Linked DNA regions of Homo sapiens. The gene in region 2 interacts genetically with the main gene of each other region. Each region holds a gene or a part of one and is shown on either strand. Other genes may lie near its edges.

Region 1 (3,650 bases), on a different chromosome or scaffold from region 2:
CCAGCCTCACCTCCCCAGACACTGGCAGACCCAAGGCCTCATACCTGCACACAGCTTCAACTCTTTAGACATGGTCAGACCCAGATGCTCATGCCTGTGCCAGATCCTACCTCCTCAGACATTGAAAAACCCAGATCCTCATACCTGTATGAGATCCTACCTCCTCAGATACTGACAGACCCAGATCCTCATACCAGGGCCAGATCCTACTTCTTCAGACACTAGAAGACACAGACCCTCCTACCAGGGACAGATCCTACCTCCTCAAATACTGACAAACCCAGATCCTCATACCAGGGCCAGATCCAACCACTTCAGACACTGACAGACTCAGGTCTTCATACCTGTATCAGATGCTACCTCCTCAGACATAGACCCAGATCCTAATACCTGTATCAGATCCTACTTCCTCAGATACAGAGACATGAAGATCCTCACACCTGTACCAGATTCCTAATTCCTCAGACACTGACACACACACAGATCCTCATACCTGTACCAGATTCCTACCTCTTCAGATATTGACAGACTCAGATCCTCATAAGGGGGCCAGATCCAACCTCCTCAGAAATTGACAGACTGAGATCTTCTTACTAGGGCCAGATCCTACCTCCTCAGAAACTGACAGATGCAGATCCTCTTACCAGTGCCAGATCCTACCTCCTCAGACATTAACAGACCCAGATCCTCACACCTGTACCAGATCCTACCTTCTCAGACATTGAAAGACCCAGATCCTTATACCTGCACCAGATCCTACCTCCTCAGACATGAACAGAACCAAATCCTCATACTCATGCCAGATCTTACCTCCAGACATGACAGACCCAGATCCTCATACCTGTACCAGATACTGCCTCCTCAGACATTGACAGACCCAGATCCTCATGCTTATGCCAGATCCTACCTCCTCAGTCACTGACAGAACCAGATTCTCATAATTAATACCAGATCCCACCTCCTCAGACACTAGAAGATCCAGATTCTCATACCTGTGCCAAATGCCACCTCCTCAGACACCCGAAGACCCAGATCCTCACAACTGTACCAGATCCTACCTCCTCAGATACTGACAGACCCAGATCCTCATACATGTACCAAATTCCCACCTCTTCAGAAATTGACAGACCCGGATCCTCATACCAGGGACACATCCTACCTGCTCAGACATGGACAGACCCGGATTCTCATACCAGGGCCAGATCCTACCTCCTCAGACATTGACAGACCCAGATCCTCATACCTATAAGAGATCGTACCTCCTAAGTCACTGGAAGACACATCTCCTCATTCCTGTACCAGATGGTAACTCCTCAGACTTTGACAGACGCAGATCCTCATACCTGTACCAGATTCCTACCTCCTCTGATATTGACAGACCCAGATCCTCATTCCTGTACCAGATGGTAACTCCTCAGACATGGACAGTCCTAGATCCTCATACCAGGGCCAGATCTTACCTCCTTAGACATGGACAGACCCAGATCCTCATACCAGGACCCGATCCCACCTCCTCAGATACTGATGGACACAGATCCTCATACTTGTACCCAGCCTCACTTCCCCAGACACTAGAAGACTCAGGGCTTCATACCTGTGCCAGATGCTATCTCCTCAGGCACTGGAAGCCCAAGGGCCTCAAACCTGAGTCCAAACTCACCTCCTCAAACACTGGAAGACGCAGATCCTCATATCTGTGCCAGGTGCTACCTCCTCAGACATGGAAGACCCATATCCTCATACCTGTGCCAGGTGCTACCTACTCAGACACGGGAAGACCCAGATCCTCATACCTGTGCCAGGTGCTACCTCCTCAGACACAGGAAGACCCAGATCCTCATACCTGTGCCAGGTGCTACCTCCTCAGACACGGGAAGACCCAGATACTCATACCTGTGCCAGGTGCTACCTCCTCAGACACTGGAAGACCCAGATTCTCATACCTGTGCCAGGTGCTACCTCCTCAGACATGGAAGACCCATATCCTCATACCTGTGCCAGATGCTACCTCCTCAAACATTGGGAAGACCCAGATCCTCATACCTGTGCCAGGTGCTACCTTCTCAGACACAGGAAGACCCAGATTTCATACCTGTACTAGATGTTACCTCCTCAGACACCAGCAGACCCAGGGCCTCATACCTGTAACCTGCTGTTATCTCCTCAGACACCAGCAGACCCAGGGCCTCATACTTGTACCAGATCCTACCTCCTCACACACTGGAAGACCCAGATGTCATACCTGTACTTAGCCCACCTCCTTGGATACCTCTTCCAGCACCACATACCTGTACCAGGCCCTACTTCCATAGACACTTGCAGACCCAGAGCCCCTTACCGGTGCCAGGACCCACCTTCTCAGTCTCATACTTGTGCCCAGGTATGCTTCCTTGGACAATGAAAGACCCAGCAGCTCTCTGCTACACTTGGCTAGGTCTCCTCAGATATTAAAAACCCACAGCTACATTTCTGTTCCCCAGCCCACCTGCTTGAACAGTGGCCCAGTGCCTCATACTTGTGCCAGGCCCCACATCCTCAGATACTGACAAACCCAGATCCTCACACCTGTGCCATTCTTTGTTGAACAATGAAGACTCATCACTTTGTACCTGTGCCCATTCCCAACTCCTCAGGTGGTACTGACAGATCCAGAACCTTAGACCTGTGCCTCACCCCACCTCCTGGACACTGACAGGCCCAGTGGGTCATATCTGGGCTTGACCGATCTTCTCGGCCTATCACCTAGGCCTATCATTCACACTGCACCTTCTCAAGCCACACCTGCAAGCTCCACTTGGTGCCATCAGAGTCCTCAGAACTTCACGGATGTCTTCCTAACAGCTGTTTATGGAGCACCTCCCACATTTCTAGCACAGGCAACGGACACAGAGTGTGGGAGAGAGACGTACATCAAATAATCATGCCAATAAATGTGAAACTGAGAAACAAGTGCTGAGGAGAAATTGGAACATGGTGCTGAGGCCACTTATAAAAGGAACCTGAGGGGTACTTGACCCTTGATCTCAAGAACGAGCAGGCATGACCCAGAGAAGCACTGAGGGAGCATTCCAGCAGCCATAACAGCACATGCAAAGGTCCCGTGGCCAAAGCAGTCTTTCTCAAGCGTGACAGAATTAAGGCCCACAGAAAATGATCTGAGTGACTTCTCAGTTCTCCCAAGGATGGTCCAAGACTAGTAACCTTCTAGACACGAAGGAGAGGTGCCCACTTATTACATCCAGTAGATGCCTTGGGCTGTGAGGGCTTAATTCTCTCCTGGAAGCCCACTGAGGCAGGGGGAAGCATAGCACCTTCCAGAGGATAAAGGAAGGGGTGGGGACCGCAGGGTGGAAGCTGAGAGGCACGGTGGGAGGACTGAGAACAGTCTGCGGCTAAGACAAGGACAGAAGCAAACAAGCCACTTTGAAGCCCCGGAGATGGACTGGGGAGTGCAGAGGACTCATTCTGGGAGCTCTCCAGTGTGGCCGAGAGGTTTCTGGCTTGGGCAATGAGATGACCGGTGGGGCCACTCACTTGGAAAGGCTCTGGGTTTCCGGGAACCTTACCTGACAGACGCAGTCCTACAGACTACATCATGCTTGACATAGGCTCTCACATCTCATCTAACAGATGCAGTTCTATTTTTTTCT
Region 2 (3,650 bases):
CACAAGTTTAACTCTGCACATAGCAAATATTTGAACTGAGTTGAATTCAAATGGAATGGGACATGGGATCAGTTAAAAATCTTCATAGGAGTCAAAAGCAGAAAAAAAGGAGATGATCTTTTGTTAGGATATTTGCTTTATTTTCTTCTCAACTACCTTCCTCCCTTCCTTTTTTCTTTCCCTCCTTCCTTCTATTTTTCCTTCCTTCCCCTTTCCTCCCTTCTTCCCTCCCTTCCTCCTTTTATCCTTCATTCCTTTAATCCTTCCTTCTTTTCTTTTTCTTTTTTTGTTGCTATTTCCTCTTCAGCTTCACTTTCTTTTAGCATGAGTTTAAGATAATTAAATAAACTTAAGTTTGCTCAGCACCTTGATGAAAAGTTTGATAGGGAAGAGATTAATGCTATTTGAAACCATTAGTTAAAAATATTTTTACTGTGTTAATATCATTTGGGGGTCTTTGTAGTTAACAAAATTTTTAAAGTATGAGTTGGCAGATGTTTTTGCCTAAATATTCCAGTGTGGTAAAATGGGCTGATTGTCTTTGTTTTCCCCTTCTGATATTTGCCCACAGATATTAAAGTAAACTCAGTTATTTTGGGTACTGGTTAATGTGAAGTTTTTGGCCTTATTCAATAAGTACAAGTCAATTTATGTGCATGCTAACAGGGGATAGTTTTTTTTACAAGTTTCCTTGGAAATGTAGTACTTGGGTACTTGGAAATAATTTATTCATTAGTAAGAAAGAAGGATTTTCTGTTAGAATATCCATAACTATGATGAGAATACAGATATTTTCCTGCTCTTGGAGAAACATTCTACCCTCTCTCTCTGCCTTCCCCTTTAGCACTTACTGGATAAATTTTCTACTTTTTCACTGTTACTGACTGAACTGCCTATTTCTTGAATCCTAAAGCTCTAATGTATTTACCTAAGGATGGGTCTCACTATGAGCTCTTTTCTCTGAACTGATTAACTCAGTACCTTGAGTAGGAATAAAATAAAACATTGATTTTTAAAATGACTCCTTTAAGCAGAGATCATGGTAATAAACAGAGTCTTGATTACATGCTTAGAACATGCTGGCCAGATATAAGGAAGTTTTTAGATTTTCTAATGGTTTTTATTCATATTGTCATCAGATTGAAAATTATTTCTATTATTAAATTTTTACCCACTTGCATTCTGACACATTTTCTTGAATAGGATATGTCAAGGTGGTATTGTCTCAGCTGCTACACAGAGTTGTGCAAAATCATGATCTGCCCAAAGGAGCATAAGGATACCCTTGAGGAGCATGTGGGATATTATTGTCATGTGTGTTTTAGTGCACAAAAACGCTGACAACCATTTATCTAGGTTGATAATTCTCAATCCTGGCTGCATTTTGAACTTACTTGGTGTTATGGACTGAATGTTTGTGTCCTCTCCAAAATTCATGTTGAAGCCCTAACCTGCCATTGTGATCGTATTTGGGGACAGGGCCTTTGCAGGGTAATTAGGTCATGAGGGTGAAGCTGTCATTGATGGGTTTAGTGTCTGTATAAGAAGAGAAAAAGACCAGAATCCTCTCTCTATTCACCATGTAAAGACACAGCAAGAAGGCAGCCATCTGCAATCCAGAAAGAGAGCCCTCGCCAGGAATCAAATCTGCTGGCCTTTTGATCTTAAACTTCCCAGCCTCCATATCTGTGAGAAATAAATGTCTGTTATGTTAGCCACCCAGTAAATGGTATTTTGTTATAGTAGCCCAAGCTGACTATGCACCTGGGAGACTTTTAAATCATACTGATGCCTGGGCATCAAATCAAGTACTTCATAATGTATGGGTGCTGAGCCCAGACATGGACATTTTCTTAAAACTCTCCAGGTGATTATAGAGCACAGCCTGGGACTGAAACCACAGATCTAGGCCAACTTCATGACACTACTAATCTTAGTTCATTTTTCTTAAGGTGGAGATATTTGCAGGTCTTATGCTGTCCTAAAACAAAGCTAGTGCCACAAGACAAAGGTCCTGGAAATTTTCCCTTCTCTCTCTCTTCTTAAGGCAGTTTCAGCTTCAGAGTAACCCTAGAAGGAGGAGTATGCTCTATGGTGATTGACCTCATAGTCTTTTAAAGCCAGGGAAACTTTAGGAGGCCAGGCAGTCTTGGAGTGGGTCCAAAGATTCAAGTCTATCAGCTGGTAGGAGGGTAAATGAACCAGCTTCCGAGATGGGGACTCCAAGTGACATTTATCCAGACACAAGCACATAATATCGTTCATTTCATCAATGATACATATTCTTGTTCTCTGTTATTTATTTTCTTTCTCCATGCATAATTTGTTAGAACTTGGCTTTTTGTTTACTGTTATGAAATAAATATTAAGATTTAGCTATTGCTTTTTCATTTTAGCAATTTGTGTGTTTTATGAAATTATTAATCAGGTATAGGCTATTTCTTTTTACTGTATTTGAAAAGCACCAATAACTCCATTTAAAAATTAACAATGAACTTTTCTAGGTGTTTCAAATAACTCCTTTAATATACTTATTAGTGATGATGCAAGTACAAATTAATTTAATGAATCATTTTTGAGCATCTTCCTTGGGATAAATATTCCTCCAGAGAGACTATTCTTCTCATGGCCAGCTGAACTTTTACAAGATAGAAAGATGCATACGTAAGTAGGTCTCATACATGATGGAGTTTCTGGCATATGAGACTGTGAGCTGTGTGGAGATATATTTAGTCTTAAATTCACCTCTTAGAAGGTTTCTAGTAGGAGATGGGATTGGATATAGACCATTCAGGATAAATGGATAGAGCTTCAGGGGTCACCATGGGAGCAGAAGGCATCAGAGGGATTAAGGTTGGCATGCAGAGAAACATGGACTGAAAGTGAGAACGTGGTAATTGGAGGGAGGGGACAGTGGGGAGAGGAGTATAACAGTAAAAGGTCTCAAATGGTAGGTAGGATTTACAATGGCCAATTGAAGAGTTTTGTGTTTGAAATCTACTCATTGTACAATGGGAAATTACTAAAGGGTTTTGAGCAGTGAAATGACTGGAATAGATCTCTTTATTTCAGGAAGATAACTCAGGTATCAGAGCATAGGATGGATTGAAGCCGAGGGAGACAGGGAATCAGGAAGCTTGGTTAAAAGCCTCTTACACGGTGGCAGTCACAGTGGAAATTTATAGATCATTTGGGATATAATAATATCATCCTCTTTATAGAATTCTTTAATGTTTAACAAGCACTTTCAGATACATTATCTCACTTGATATGAATGTAATTGGTATAATTGGTAGGACATTGTGCCATTCTCTGGAGTGAGTCACTGGTGATCCTTAAGGGAGTGTCTTCTCTGGGAAGGTGAAGATGTAGCATGGAACACAGGGAATCAGAGAAATATCCAGGAAGGAAAAGAGAAGGTAGCAAATACATACAAGTCCACAGAAGTTGATAACTTGGAGGGAAGAAAGAAGAGAGAGAAACAGAGGATGATCGCTTGAAACCTGATTATTTATTGAATGGTGAAACTCTTAAATTTGTTAAGACAAGGCAGTAATTGACTCTAGACATTTTCTCTGAACAGATTAACTCAGTGCCTTGAGTAGAAATAAGAGGAAATAGTGCTGCTAAAAATGATTATTTTTTTTAGA
Region 3 (3,650 bases), on a different chromosome or scaffold from region 2:
CACGCCCCCCAGCATCACGGTCACTCGGCAGCCGAAGCGTCCCACCAGGATGCTGCACAGGGGCCCTGTGGGAGAAGACAGCCAGCAGGTAGCAGCTGAATGAGGAGGTGGCGGGAGAGGAGGAGAGTGGCTGGAGAGGGCAGTTCCAGCTGGAACTAGCCAGGTGGTTTCAAGGGCACGAGCAGGCCTGGATTCTGATACCCACCTGCCATGGACTGGCCATGTGGCCTGAGCAAAGCCTGATCCCTCTCCGTGCCTCAATTTTTTCCCCTACAAAGTGAGGATTCAGAATGGGCGATGTTTGACCCTGATGAGGATTCCCTGAAAGGTGGAGCAAGACCCTGAACTACACAGACCTGAGGCTGCTCATTCTATCCGGGTGAAACAGGATTGGTTCATGAGTTTACCTCCCCCACTTCGCTGGGGGTCTGTTGGTGGGAGGAGTCGGGGCAGTGTTCCAGGACATCTAGACTACAGTGTGCACCTTCAGATCCTGTTTTACCTGCCCCATCCCCACACCCAACATCCTCAGGAAGACTGGCTAGATCCCTCCCACCCTCCCACCACCTTCCCAGCCCTACAGCTGAGGGGAACCCTGGGCCCCTCTGCGCCTCCTTGCACTGGCCTCTGCAGACAATCAGGCAGGGTAGGTTCTCCCCTCCCACACCACCTCCAGCACCACCAAAGTCTGCACCTAGAGGTTTGGCTCAATGTGGAGGGGGGCCTGTTCCTTGCCTGGCTCCCAGCTGCTTTCTCACCAATCCACACCCCAAAAAAATAGAAAAGAGCTGCAGACTGCTCCTTGGCACCTCACAGGGGCCCCATTCACCCAAGCACATGTGGAGCTTCTCTAACTTACTCTCCGAGAGTGCAACTAAAGGGACAGGGAAGTGTGTGCGCATGAGATGCTTGTGTGTGTCTGCGGTGGAGGGGGGATGTGTGGTGTGAGCCAGTGTGAGTATAAAAGTGACAGAGTAGGCTGGGTGTGGTGGCTCACGCCTGTAATCCCAGTACTTTGGGAGGCCGAGGTGGGTGGATCACTTAAGGTCAGGAGTTCGAGACCAGCCTGACCAACATGGTGAAACCCCATCTCTACTAAAAATACAAAAATTAGCCAGGCATGGTGGTGCGTGCCTGTAATCCCAGCTACTTGGGAGGCTGAGGCAGGAGAATCGCTTGAACCTGGGAGGCAGAACCCGATGCGCTCCATCCTGGGCGACAGAGTGAAACTACATCTCAAAAAAAAAAAAAAAAAAAAAAAGTGATGGAGTGGCCATGCGTGGTGGCTCACGCCTGTAATCCCAGCACTTTGGGAGGCCGAGGCAGGTGGATCGCCTGAAGTCAGGAGTTCGAGACCAGCCTGGCTAACATGGTAAAACCCCATCTCTACTAAAAATACAAAAATTAGCCAGGTGTGGTGGCGCATGCCTGTAATTCCAAGCTACTAGGGAGGCTGAGGCAGGAGAATCGCTTGAACCCGGGAGGTGGAGGTTGCAGTGAGCCGAGACTGTGCCACTACACTCCAGCCTGGGTGAGAGAGGGAGGCTCCATCTCCGAAAAAAAAAAAAAAGAAAAAAGCAAGTGACAGACTAAGTGAGCAGCCCGTCGCAGACATAATCAAGCAGAGGCTGGTGGCCCGGCGTCTCTGCCCCTGTAGAGGGGGAGGTGGCTCTGGAGAGGACTGACCCACAGAGCTTCCTCACGCCAGAGACTCTGGCCTGACTTAGGGAAGTTGACATTGGGGAAAGCCCTTAGTCACAGGGGTGGGGGTGGGGACTGGGCTGCAGGCCAGAGCTGCATAGCTGAGGGTGGTGTGGCCGGGCGGGACACAGGGTGTTTCCTCTGCCGTGAACTCACTCTTCAGCCTTGGGCAGGTCTTGTGTTCTGTGCCTGCTTGCTTTCCTTACCTCTAAAAGGCGTAGGTAGGGGCAGGGGCACTTGAAAGGATCAGTGAAAGTATCCATGATTCATCGTGTTTAAAAATTTCTACAATACTGTGGTCAGGTGCCGTGGCTCATGTCTGTAATCCCAGCATTTTGAGAGGCCCAGGCAGGTAGATCACTTGAGCCCAGGAGTTTGAGACCAGCCTGAGCAACATAGTGAGACCCCGTCTCTACAAAAAGTAAAAAAATTAGCTGGGTATGGTCTGGGCGTGGTGGCTCACACCTGTAATCCCAGCACTTTGGGAGGCCAAGGCCAGCAGATCATGAGGTCAGGAGATCGAGACCATCCTGGCTAACACGGTGAAACCCCGTCTCTACTAAAAATACAAAAAATTAGCCAGGCATGGTGGTGCGCACCTGTAGTCCCAGCTACTCAGGAGGCTGAGGCAGGAGAATCGCTTGAACCTGGAAGGCGGAGGTTACAGCGAGCTGAGATTGCACCACTGCACTCCAGCCTGGGCAACAGAGCGAGACTCCATCTAAAAAAAAAAAAAATTAGCTGGGTGTGGTGGTGCACACCTGTGGTCCCAGCTACTCGGGAGGCTGAGGTGGCAGGATCGCTTGAGCTTGAGAGGTTAAGGCTGCAATAGGCTGTGATCATGCCACTGCACTCCAGCCCAGGTGACAGAGTGAGACTCTGTCTCAAAAATAAGCAAATAAATAAATAAACATAAAATAAAATGTCTACAGTACTCTGAATGAGCACGGGCTCATACACGTGTATGTGTACATGAGAGAGATGGCCAGCCAGGAATCCCATGCTGATGGAGATGCTGAGATGCCTGCTGGGGGTGGTGAGCCGCAAGTCAGCTGGGGAGTAGGTTCCCCGCCGGGTGCCCGGTTCCTAGCCCCTGGCCCAGGAACCCTGCTCTGCCTGTGTGAGAAGCAGCCCTCTGGGATTCCCACTCCCTGCCCCAACCCTGCAGGCCAGAGGCCATGTGGCAGATTCAGAGCTCACCCAGGAGGGTGGCGCTTTCTCCGAGCCTCACCTCCCTCCCAGTTTGAGGGCAGGACCTGGAATAATAGGCAGGCTGCTGGTGGCAAGTGGAGGGAGTAGCCAGGAGGTAGCCGGGGAGATGGGCAGCTGCGGCCAGCAGACACACGCCTGCAGAGGCCTGTGGGCCATCAGCTCGGGCTGCTGTCCACCGGGCCCCTCCGAGGCCGGGGTCTCTGCAGTCTCCCTGGAGAGCTCCCAGGAGCTGAGGGCAGGTCCCTGTGTCCACGGCGACTGCAGAGAACCCTCCCTCTGCCCTGCTCCCAACGCTGGGGTCAGGGTGAGGCAGTCACACTCCTGGAAAAGCCAGCCAGGAACATGGGCCTCTGAGGCCTATGGTGACAGAGCCAGGAGAAGGGGCAGACAGGGGCTGCCTTCCTCCCTCACCCCCACTTAGCAACCTCCTCTCTGCAGGGAGTCCCGGGAGAGCTGGGGCTCCTGCCTTGTCCCCCTCTTGTTCCTGGTGTCTTTTTTTTTTTTTGAGACAGTTTCACTCTTGTTGCCCAGGCTGGAGTGCAATGGCACCATCTCAGCTCACCGCAACCTCTGCCTCCTGGGTTCAAGAGATTCTCCTGCCTCAGCCTCCTGAGTAGCTGGGATTACAGGCACCCGCCACCACGCCCAGCTAATTTTGTATTTTCAGTAGAGACAGGGTTTCTCCATGTTGGTCAGGCTGGTCTCAAACTCCCGACCTCAGGTGATCTGACCGCCTC

What was found.
Region 1: changes in PTPRZ1 (region 2) and GPI together harm fitness more than expected from each alone (negative genetic interaction), as found in Homo sapiens cells (one large-scale study listed by BioGRID).
Region 3: changes in PTPRZ1 (region 2) and SLC16A5 together harm fitness more than expected from each alone (negative genetic interaction), as found in Homo sapiens cells (one large-scale study listed by BioGRID).

The regions. Positions count from the first base shown.
Region 1 is NC_000019.10:34,389,103-34,392,752, reverse strand, and holds part of GPI (glucose-6-phosphate isomerase), read right to left. Parts: intron 1-3,650. UniProt on the Homo sapiens protein: In the cytoplasm, catalyzes the conversion of glucose-6-phosphate to fructose-6-phosphate, the second step in glycolysis, and the reverse reaction during gluconeogenesis.
Region 2 is NC_000007.14:121,879,606-121,883,255, forward strand, and holds part of PTPRZ1 (receptor-type tyrosine-protein phosphatase zeta isoform 1 precursor), read left to right. Parts: intron 1-3,650. UniProt on the Homo sapiens protein: Protein tyrosine phosphatase that negatively regulates oligodendrocyte precursor proliferation in the embryonic spinal cord. Required for normal differentiation of the precursor cells into mature, fully myelinating oligodendrocytes.
Region 3 is NC_000017.11:75,094,453-75,098,102, reverse strand, and holds part of SLC16A5 (monocarboxylate transporter 6), read right to left. Parts: intron 66-3,650; coding exon 1-65. UniProt on the Homo sapiens protein: Proton-linked monocarboxylate transporter.